2 separate regions of the Homo sapiens genome follow, and region 2 is linked to region 1. The links come from fine-mapping of genetic effects on gene expression. A gene starts in region 1. The other region holds a variant in brackets. All regions are shown on one strand. Distances are between the middles of the regions.

The links. PIP is the estimated chance that this variant, and not a neighbour inherited with it, causes the effect.
Region 2: its variant is the best candidate, but not a certain one, in a credible set for the expression of FANCG in blood mononuclear cells (TOPMed, PIP 0.52).

Annotation. Positions count from the first base shown.
Region 1 is chr9:35,078,400-35,082,787 of GRCh38, reverse strand. FANCG (FA complementation group G) reads left to right here and starts at 2,846. Exons shown (of 14, transcript NM_004629.2): 1 at 2,846-3,347; 2 at 3,547-3,637; 3 at 4,052-4,183. The coding sequence starts at 3,264. RefSeq lists enhancers at 1,394-2,000, 3,217-3,824 and a silencer at 2,976-3,141.
Region 2 is chr9:35,019,365-35,023,752 of GRCh38, reverse strand. LOC105376025 (a long non-coding RNA gene) reads left to right here. Exons shown (of 4, transcript XR_929579.3): 2 at 1,125-1,221. Among named protein-coding and RNA genes, the nearest start is that of SPATA31G1, 21 kb to the left of the region's middle. The variant C/T (reference allele first, on the strand shown) is at 2,452.

The DNA.
Region 1 (4,388 bases):
GCTGGGATTACAGGAATAAGCCACTGCGCCCGGCCTATGATTAACTTTTTAAGAAACTGCCAAACTTTTCTGAAGTGAGTGTACTATTTTATATTCCCACCAGCAGTGTATGAGGGTTCCTCATACACATCCTCACCAACACTTGGTATAATCTGTTTTTATTGTAGTCATTTTATGTATGTATGTGTATAGTGTTTTTATTTTTATTTATTTATTTTTGAGACAGAGTCTCACTCTGTCACCCAGGCTGGAGTGCAGTGGCATGGTCTCAGCTCACTGCAACCTCCGTTTCCCAGGTTCAAGTGATTGTCATGCCTCAGCCTCCTGAGTAGCTGGGATTACAGGTGTCTGCCACCATGCCCAGCTAATTTTTGTATTTGCAGTAGAGACAGGGTTTTGCCCTGTTGGCTTGGCTGGTCTCAAACTCCTGGCCTCAAGTGATCCACCTGCCTCAGCCTCCCAAAGTGCTGGGATTAAAGGTGTGAGCCACCACGCCCGGCTGTGTGAAGCGTTTTTTTATTTTTTGAGACGAAGTCTCGCTGTGTCACCTAGGCTAGAGTTCAGTGGCAGGATCTCGGCTCACTGCAACCTCCACCTTCCGGGTTCAAGCCATTCTCCCACCTCAGCTTCCCAGGTAGCTGGGATTACAGGCATGCACCACCATGCCTGCCTAATTTTTGTATTTTTAGTAGAGACGAGGTTTCACCAAGTTGGCCATGCTGGTCTTGAACTCCTGACCTCAAGTGATCCATCCACCTCAGCCTCCCAAAGTGCTGGGATTACAGGCATAACATGGCCCGGCCCTGGCCATGTTTTTAACTGTGTTTCTCTAATAGCTAATAATGCCGAGCATCTTTTTATGTGTTTCTTAGCCATTAGTAGATCTTTTTTGGTAAAATGTCTTTTTTTTTTTTTTTGGTCCATCTTAAAATTGTTTTTTGTTTTGTTTTGAGACAGGGTCTCACTTTGTTGCCCACGCTGGAGTGCAGTGGCTCAATCATGGCTCACTGCAGCTTCGACATCCCTGAGCTCAGGTGATCCTCCCACCTAAGTTTCCCGAGTAGATGGGACTACAGGTGTGTGCCACCATGCCCAGCTAATTTTTGTATTTTTTTTGTAGAGGTGGGGTTTTGCTATGTTGCCCAGGCAGGTCTTAAACTTCTGAGGCTCAAATGATCCTCCCACCTCAGCCTCCCAAAGTGCTGGGATAACAGGCATGAACCACCACACCCAGCTAAGATTGTTTTTAAAAATCTTTTTCTTGAGTTTTGGGAGTTTTTATGTGTTAGGGATACCAGTCCCTTATGAGGTATATAATTAGCAAGTAGTTTCTCCCACTCTGTGACTGTGACCTTTCTTTTTTTGAGGCAGGGTCTCACTCTGTTACTCAGGCTGGAGGGCAGTGGTGTGATCATGGCTCACTGCAACCTGGAACTCCTAGGCTCAAGGGCTCCTCCCACCTCAGCCTCCCAAGTAGCTGGGTCTACAGGTGTGTTATTGTGCCAGGGTTAATGTTTTAAATTTTTTGTAGAGATAATGTCTCTACAAAAGACACCATCTTTGTTGCCTAGGCTGGTCTTGAACTCCTGGCTTCAGGGAATCCTCCAGCCTCAGCCTCCCAAAGTGCTGGGATTACAGCATGAGCCACATCCAGCCTATGATTTTTCTTCTTTTCTTTTCTTTTCTTTTCTTTTTTTTTTGAGATGGAGTCTCGCTGTTGCGCAGGCTGGAGTGCAGTGGGGCGATCTCGGCTCACTGCAGGCTCTGGCCCGCGGGGTTCACGCCTTTCTCCTGCCTCAGCCTCCCGAGTAGCTGGGACTACAGGCGCCCGCCACATCGCCCGGCTAATTTTTTGTATTTTTAGTAGAGACGGGGTTTCACCGTGTTAGCCATGATGGTCTCGATCTCCTGACCTCGTGATCCGCCCGCCTCGGTCTCCCAAAGTGCTGGGATCACAGGCGTGAGCCACGGCGCCCGGCCCCAGCGTATGACTTCTTAATGATGTCTTTGTAGTACAAGAGTTTTTAATTTTAATAAAGTTAACTTTTTTTTAAATTGTACAAGCTTTTAGTGCTGTGTCTAACAACTTGTTGCCAAACCCAAGGTCATAAAGCTGTTCTCTTACGTTTTCTTTTTTTTTTTTTTTTGAGACGGAGTCTCACTCTGTCACCCAGGCTGGAGTGCAATGGCACGATGTCGGCTCACTGCAACCTCCGCCACCCGGGTTCAAGCGATTCTTCCGCCTCAGCCTCCGGGGTAGCTGGGATTACAGGCGCACGACACCACGCCCTGCTAATTTTTGTATTTTTGTAGAGAAGGTTTCACCATGTTAGTTAGGCTGCTTTACGTTTTCTTTTAGAAGTTTTATATTTTTGGCTCTTATATTTAGTTTGTGATCCATTGAGTTGATTTTATGTACGTATGTATGGTCGCGTTCTTTTCTTTCCTGTCTTTTTTTTTTTTTTTTTTTGCATATGGATATTCAATTCTCCTAGCTCCATTTAATTTGAAATGATTGGGCAGGTACTTTTGAGCAGTGCAAGTACAGAGCGGCACTGCCAGCAGACTACACGCGGTAGAAAGCCGACCTTGGTGAGCGTGTTGGTGCTCGACAGTGAGCAGAGAAAGGATGGACGATTACGGAGCGCCCTCGTCTCCAGTTACCGCTTTCTGGAAACACCATCCGCCGGGGCGGAGCTGTTCCGCCCCGGTGCGGTACTACGACTCCCAGCATGCACCTCGCAGTCGGCCCTCGGTGGAAGCGGGAACCCAGGAGGACCTGGGGGTGTGGCAGCGAGGAAGGGCCGAGCCACGGACTGTGGGGCCGAAACTCGCTCCCGCCCACCCTTTCTCGAGGCTGTGGCCTCCGCGAGAGCCGAGCGGGCCGCACCGCCGGCCGTGCGACTGCCCCAGTCAGACACGACCCCGGCTTCTAGCCCGCCTAAGCCTGTTTGGGGTTGCTGACTCGTTTCCTCCCCGAGTTTCCCGCGGGAACTAACTCTTCAAGAGGACCAACCGCAGCCCAGAGCTTCGCAGACCCGGCCAACCAGAGGCGAGGTTGAGAGCCCGGCGGGCCGCGGGGAGAGAGCGTCCCATCTGTCCTGGAAAGCCTGGGCGGGTGGATTGGGACCCCGAGAGAAGCAGGGGAGCTCGGCGGGGTGCAGAAGTGCCCAGGCCCCTCCCCGCTGGGGTTGGGAGCTTGGGCAGGCCAGCTTCACCCTTCCTAAGTCCGCTTCTGGTCTCCGGGCCCAGCCTCGGCCACCATGTCCCGCCAGACCACCTCTGTGGGCTCCAGCTGCCTGGACCTGTGGAGGGAAAAGAATGACCGGCTCGTTCGACAGGCCAAGGTAACACGGTTGCTGGCACCCTCGGTTTGCAGCCTCAAGATCCCTGAAAGCGGGTTTGCAGTGGATTTACCCCAACCGATGGGGAGGGACTGAGCTTGACCAAAGAGCCAGAAATGACTGGAGAATGCATCCCTTGCCACTGCTGCAAGGGGAGAAAAAAGGATTGATCCTCAGTGACAACCCCTCCCTCATGTGGCAGGTGGCTCAGAACTCCGGTCTGACTCTGAGGCGACAGCAGTTGGCTCAGGATGCACTGGAAGGGCTCAGAGGGCTCCTCCATAGTCTGCAAGGTAGGCGGGTCCTCCCCAGGATGGTCAGTTCCCCTCTTCCATAGCCAGAGAAACATCCGCTCCTGCGTTTTTGGGATCGATATAATTACTCGGGGCAGGGAGTCCTGTTTAAGGCACAGAGGAGACTGGAGTGGAATCATCTTTGTACAGGCAAATCCCTCTCTTCCTTACACACTCACAGAGTGGCATTTGAAAAATGGTTTCCAAGATGGTCTGATCTGGATAACTTTTTTGCCCTTTCCAGACTCTCTGTCCAAAGGTTGGGTTCTTTTTTTAAATCCTTAGCTAATTGGCTGGAGGGTGGGTTCTTTATTGTAGCTGTTTTGGTTGGAGTGGGGTGATCTCTGAGTTGGGATTTTATTTGGAGGATCTTCCATGGGGGAGCAGTCTGTAAGACCAACATTGTTGCTCCAGGGCTCCCTGCAGCTGTTCCTGTTCTTCCCTTGGAGCTGACTGTCACCTGCAACTTCATTATCCTGAGGGCAAGCTTGGCCCAGGGTTTCACAGAGGATCAGGCCCAGGATATCCAGCGGAGCCTAGAGAGAGGTGAGGGCCAGAGATTGTCCCTGATTCCCCTGCCATCTTCAGTCTGGGTTTAAGTTATTGCAGGGAGATGGGAGGATAAACAACATCTGTCACCTCCATGGAGAGAGGTGCCCTTCTCTGTGCTCTTCAGACCAGGTTGAGGTATTATTATTGTGACCTTTGGGGTCCTGCAGGAGAGGAAAGCCAGAGTGTGTGGGGAGATGGA
Region 2 (4,388 bases), 59 kb after region 1:
CTTCTTTTCTACAGACCCATCTGACCTCTCCCCTCCTCCCCAGGCTGCTTCTCGCTAGGCCGAGCCAGGTCCCAACTCTTCCTCAGCCACTGCTCCCCCACCCTATAATCCTTTTATCACTTCCTCTCCTCACACCCGGTCTGCTTTACAGTTTCGTTCTGCGACTAGCTCTCCCCCACCTGCCCAACAATTTCCTCTTAGAGAAGTGGCTGGAGCTGAAGGCATAGTCTGGGTACATGTGCCTTTTTCTGTATCAGACTTTTCCCAAATCAGCCAGTGTTTGGGCTCTTTCTCATCAGACCCCACTAAATATATACAGGAATTCCGATATCTAACTCTGTCCTGCAAGTTAACCTGCAGTGACTTAAATGTCATCCTGACTTCCACCCTCTCCCCAGATGAACAGGAAAGAGTTTTTTCTCTAGCCCAGTCTCACGCTGACAACCGCTGGCTTCATGAGCCAGGCCTCCAGGAAGGCATCAGAGCAGTTCCCCGAGAGGACCCCCAAAGGAACTATCAGGCAGATTCCCCAGGTATAGCTAGGCGAGATTACATGATTTCCTGCCTAGTTGAAGGGCTTAAAAAGGCAGCACACAAAGCTTTTAATTATGACAAAATTAAAAACTACCCGAGGTAAAGACGAAAACCCAGCCCAGGTCATGGCCCGCTTAGCAGCAACCCTTAGACGCTTTACCGCCCTAGACCCAGAGGGGCCGGAAGGCCGCCTTATTCTCAATATGCATTTTATTACCCAGTCCGCTCCCGACATTAGAAAAAGCTCCAAAAATGAGCTTCCAGTCCTCAAACCCCACAACAGGACCTAATTAACCGCGCCTTCAAGGTGTACAATAATAAAGAGTTGCAATTACTTGCCTCTGCTGTGTGAGAAACCCCAGCCATATCTCCAGCACACAAAAACTTCAAAACGCCTAAGCCACAGCAGTCAGGCATTCCTTCAGGACTTCCTCCCCCAGGATCTTGCTTCAAGTGCTGGAAATCTGGCCACTAGGCCAAGGGATGCCCACAGAACTGGGACTCCTCCTAAGCCGTGTCCCATCTGTGTGGGACCCCACTGGAAACTGGACTGTCTAACTGGCCCAAGGCTCTGACTGACTCCTTCCCAGATCTTCTCGGCTCAGTGGCTGAAGACTGACGTTGCCTGATCACCTCGGAAGCCTCCTGGACCATCACAGACGCTTTGGGTAACTCTTACAGTGGAGGGTAAGTCCGTCCCCTTCTTAATCAATACGAAGGCTACCCACTTCACATTACCTTCTTTTCAAGGGCCTGTTTCCCTTGCCTCCATAACCGTTGTGGGTATTGATGGCCAGGCTGCTAAACCTCTTAAAACTCCCCAACTCTGGTGCCAACTTGGACAACATTCTTTAATGCACTCCTTTTTAGTTATCCCCACCTGCCCAGCTCCCTTATTAGGTCGAGACATTTTAACTAAATTATCTACTCCCCTGACTATTCCTGGGCTACAGCCACACCTCATTGCTGCCTTTCCCCCCAGTTCAAAGCCTCCTTCACATCCTCTCTTTGTATCTCCCCACCTTAATCCACAAGTATAGGACACCTCTACTCCCTCCTTGGCGATGGATGACGTACCCCTTACCATCCCATTAAAACCTGATCACCCTTACCCTGCTCAACACCAGTATCCCATCCCACAGCAGGCTTTCAAAGCATTAAAGCCTGTTATCACTCGCCTGTTACAGCATGGCCTTTTAAAGCCTATAAACACTCCTTACAATTTCCCCATTTTACCTGTCCAAAAACTGGACAAGTCTTACAGGTTAGTTCAGGATCTGCGCCTTATCAACCAAATTGTCTTGCCTATCTACCCCGTGGTGCCAAACCCATAGACTCTCCTATCCTCAGTACCTCCCTCCACAACCCATTCTGTTCTAGATAAACCTAGCTGACCCCATAAATCCTAAATTCTTTCCCCACTCCCCTTTCCATTTCTTAAAAAACAGCCCTAAAAGCTGCTCCCACACTAGCTCTCCCTAACTCATCCCAGCCTTTTTCATTACACATAGCTGAAGTGCAGGGCTGTGCAGTCAAAATTCTTACACAAGGACTGGGACCGTGCCCTGTGGCCTTTTTATCCAAACAACTTGACCTTACTGTTTTAGCCTAGCCCTCATGTCTGTGTGCGGCAGCTGCCACTGCCTTAATACTTTTAGAGGCCCTCAAAATCACAAACTATGCTCAACTCACTCTCTACAGTTCTCATAACTTCCAAAATCTATTTTCTTCCTCATACCTGATGCATATACTTTCTGCCCCTCTCCACTACCTCTCAGCAAGTCAAACTCATTGCCTTAACTCAAGCCCTCACCCTTGCAAAGGGACTACGTGTCAATATTTATACTGACTCTAAATATGCCTTCCATATCCTGCACCACCATACTGTTATATGGGCTGAAAGAGGTTTCCTCACTA[C/T]GCAAGGGTCCTCCATCATTAATGCCTCTTTAATAAAAACTCTTCTCAAGGCCACTTTACTTCCAAAGGAAGCTGGATTCATTCACTGCAAGGGCCATCAAAAGGCGTCAGATCCCATCGCTCAGGGCAACACTTATGCTGATAAGGTAGCTAAAAAAGCAGCTAGCATTCCAACTTCTGTCCCTCATGGCCAGTTTTTCTCCTTCTCATCGGTCACTCCCACCTACTCCCCCACTGAAACTTCCACCTATCAATCTCTTCCCACACAAGGCAAATGGTTCTTAGACCAAGGAAAATATCTCCTTCCAGCCTCACAGGCCCATTCTATTCTGTCATCATTTCATAGCCTCTTCCATGTAGGTTACAAGCCGCTAGCCCACCTCTTAGAACCTCTCATTTCCTTTCCATCATGAAAATCTATCCTCAAGGAAATCACTTCTCAGTGTTCCGTCTGCTATTCTACTCCTCCTCAGGGATTGTTCAGGCCCCCTCCCAGTCCTCCCATTTCATTACCACTTGGCTAGCCCTGTGATTATTAAATTCTTTCTTTGCTGCCAAAAAAAAAAAAAAAGAAAAGAAAGGAATTTGGAAGTCTAAAATAGGGAAAAAGAGGTTTTATGAATCTATAAGATCTACTTCTACCTGCGTGTCTAATACATCTACATATTTATGTGTCATGTATATGATGTTTCATTACTAAAAATATATAAAAGAGCTTTAATTAATTGGCTTAAAGAAAAAAGCACTTAATCAAATACTTTATTAGAAAATTGAGACTTTAAACCAAGTGCTTTTTCAACTTCAAGTGACTTAAGTAAATCATTTTTTTTTTTTTTTTGAGACGGAGTCTCACTCTGTCCCCCAGGCTGGAGTGCAGTGGCACCATCTCGGCTCACTGCAAGCTCCGCCTCCCGGGTTTACTTATGCCATTCTTCTGCCTCAGCCTCCCGAGTAGCTGGGACTACAGATGCCTGCCACCACACCAGGCTAATTTTTTGTATTTTTAGTAGAGATGGGGTTTCACTGTGTTAGCCATGATGGTCTCGATCTCCTGACCTCATGATCCGCCTGCCTCGGCCTCCCAAAGTGCTGGGATTACAGGCGTGAGCCACCACACCCAGCCTCAACTTAAGTAAATCTTTAATAAATAAGCTGGTTTTAAAAATACTGGTGAAGTAGAATTAGAAATGGCTTCAGAATTGATCTCTGCTAGATGTCAACATTTGGCATGAAGGTTGTAAAGCTATGAATGTAGCCCAAAAGAGAATTGTTTATGTAAAATTTGATATATAAGGCATTTAATATTGTTTAGTTAATGAAAACAGCTAAATCCTGAATTTTTGGTAAACAAAACACCATTTATCTAATCTTAAGTTTCTTACCTAGGAAAATCTGAAATTTACAGATTATAAAAATGGTTAACCGTATGAAAAAAAGGTCAACATCACTGATCATTAGAGAAATGCAAATCAAAACCACAATGAGGCCAGGAGCAGTGTCTCGTGCCTGTAATCCCAGTACCTTGGGGGCCAATGTGGATGGATCACTGGAGGTCAGAAATTCGGGACCAGCCTGGCCAACATGGTGAAACCTTGTCTCTACCAAAAATACAAAAATTAGCTGGGCATGGTAGCACATGCCTGAAATCCCAGCTACTCAGGAGGCTGAGGCAGGAGAATTGCTTGAACCCAGTAGGTGTAGGTTTCTGTGAGTCAAGATCGTGTCACTGCACTCCAGCCTGGGCAACAAAGCGAGACTCTGCCTCAAAACAAACAAAACCCCCAGAAAACCCACAGTGATATACCATCTCATGCCAGTCAGAATGGCGATTACTAAAAAGTCCAGAAACAACAGATGCTGTCAAGGTTGCAGAGAAAAAGGAACACTTTTACACTGTTGGTGGGAGTGTAAATTGTGGAAGACAGTGTGGCAATTCC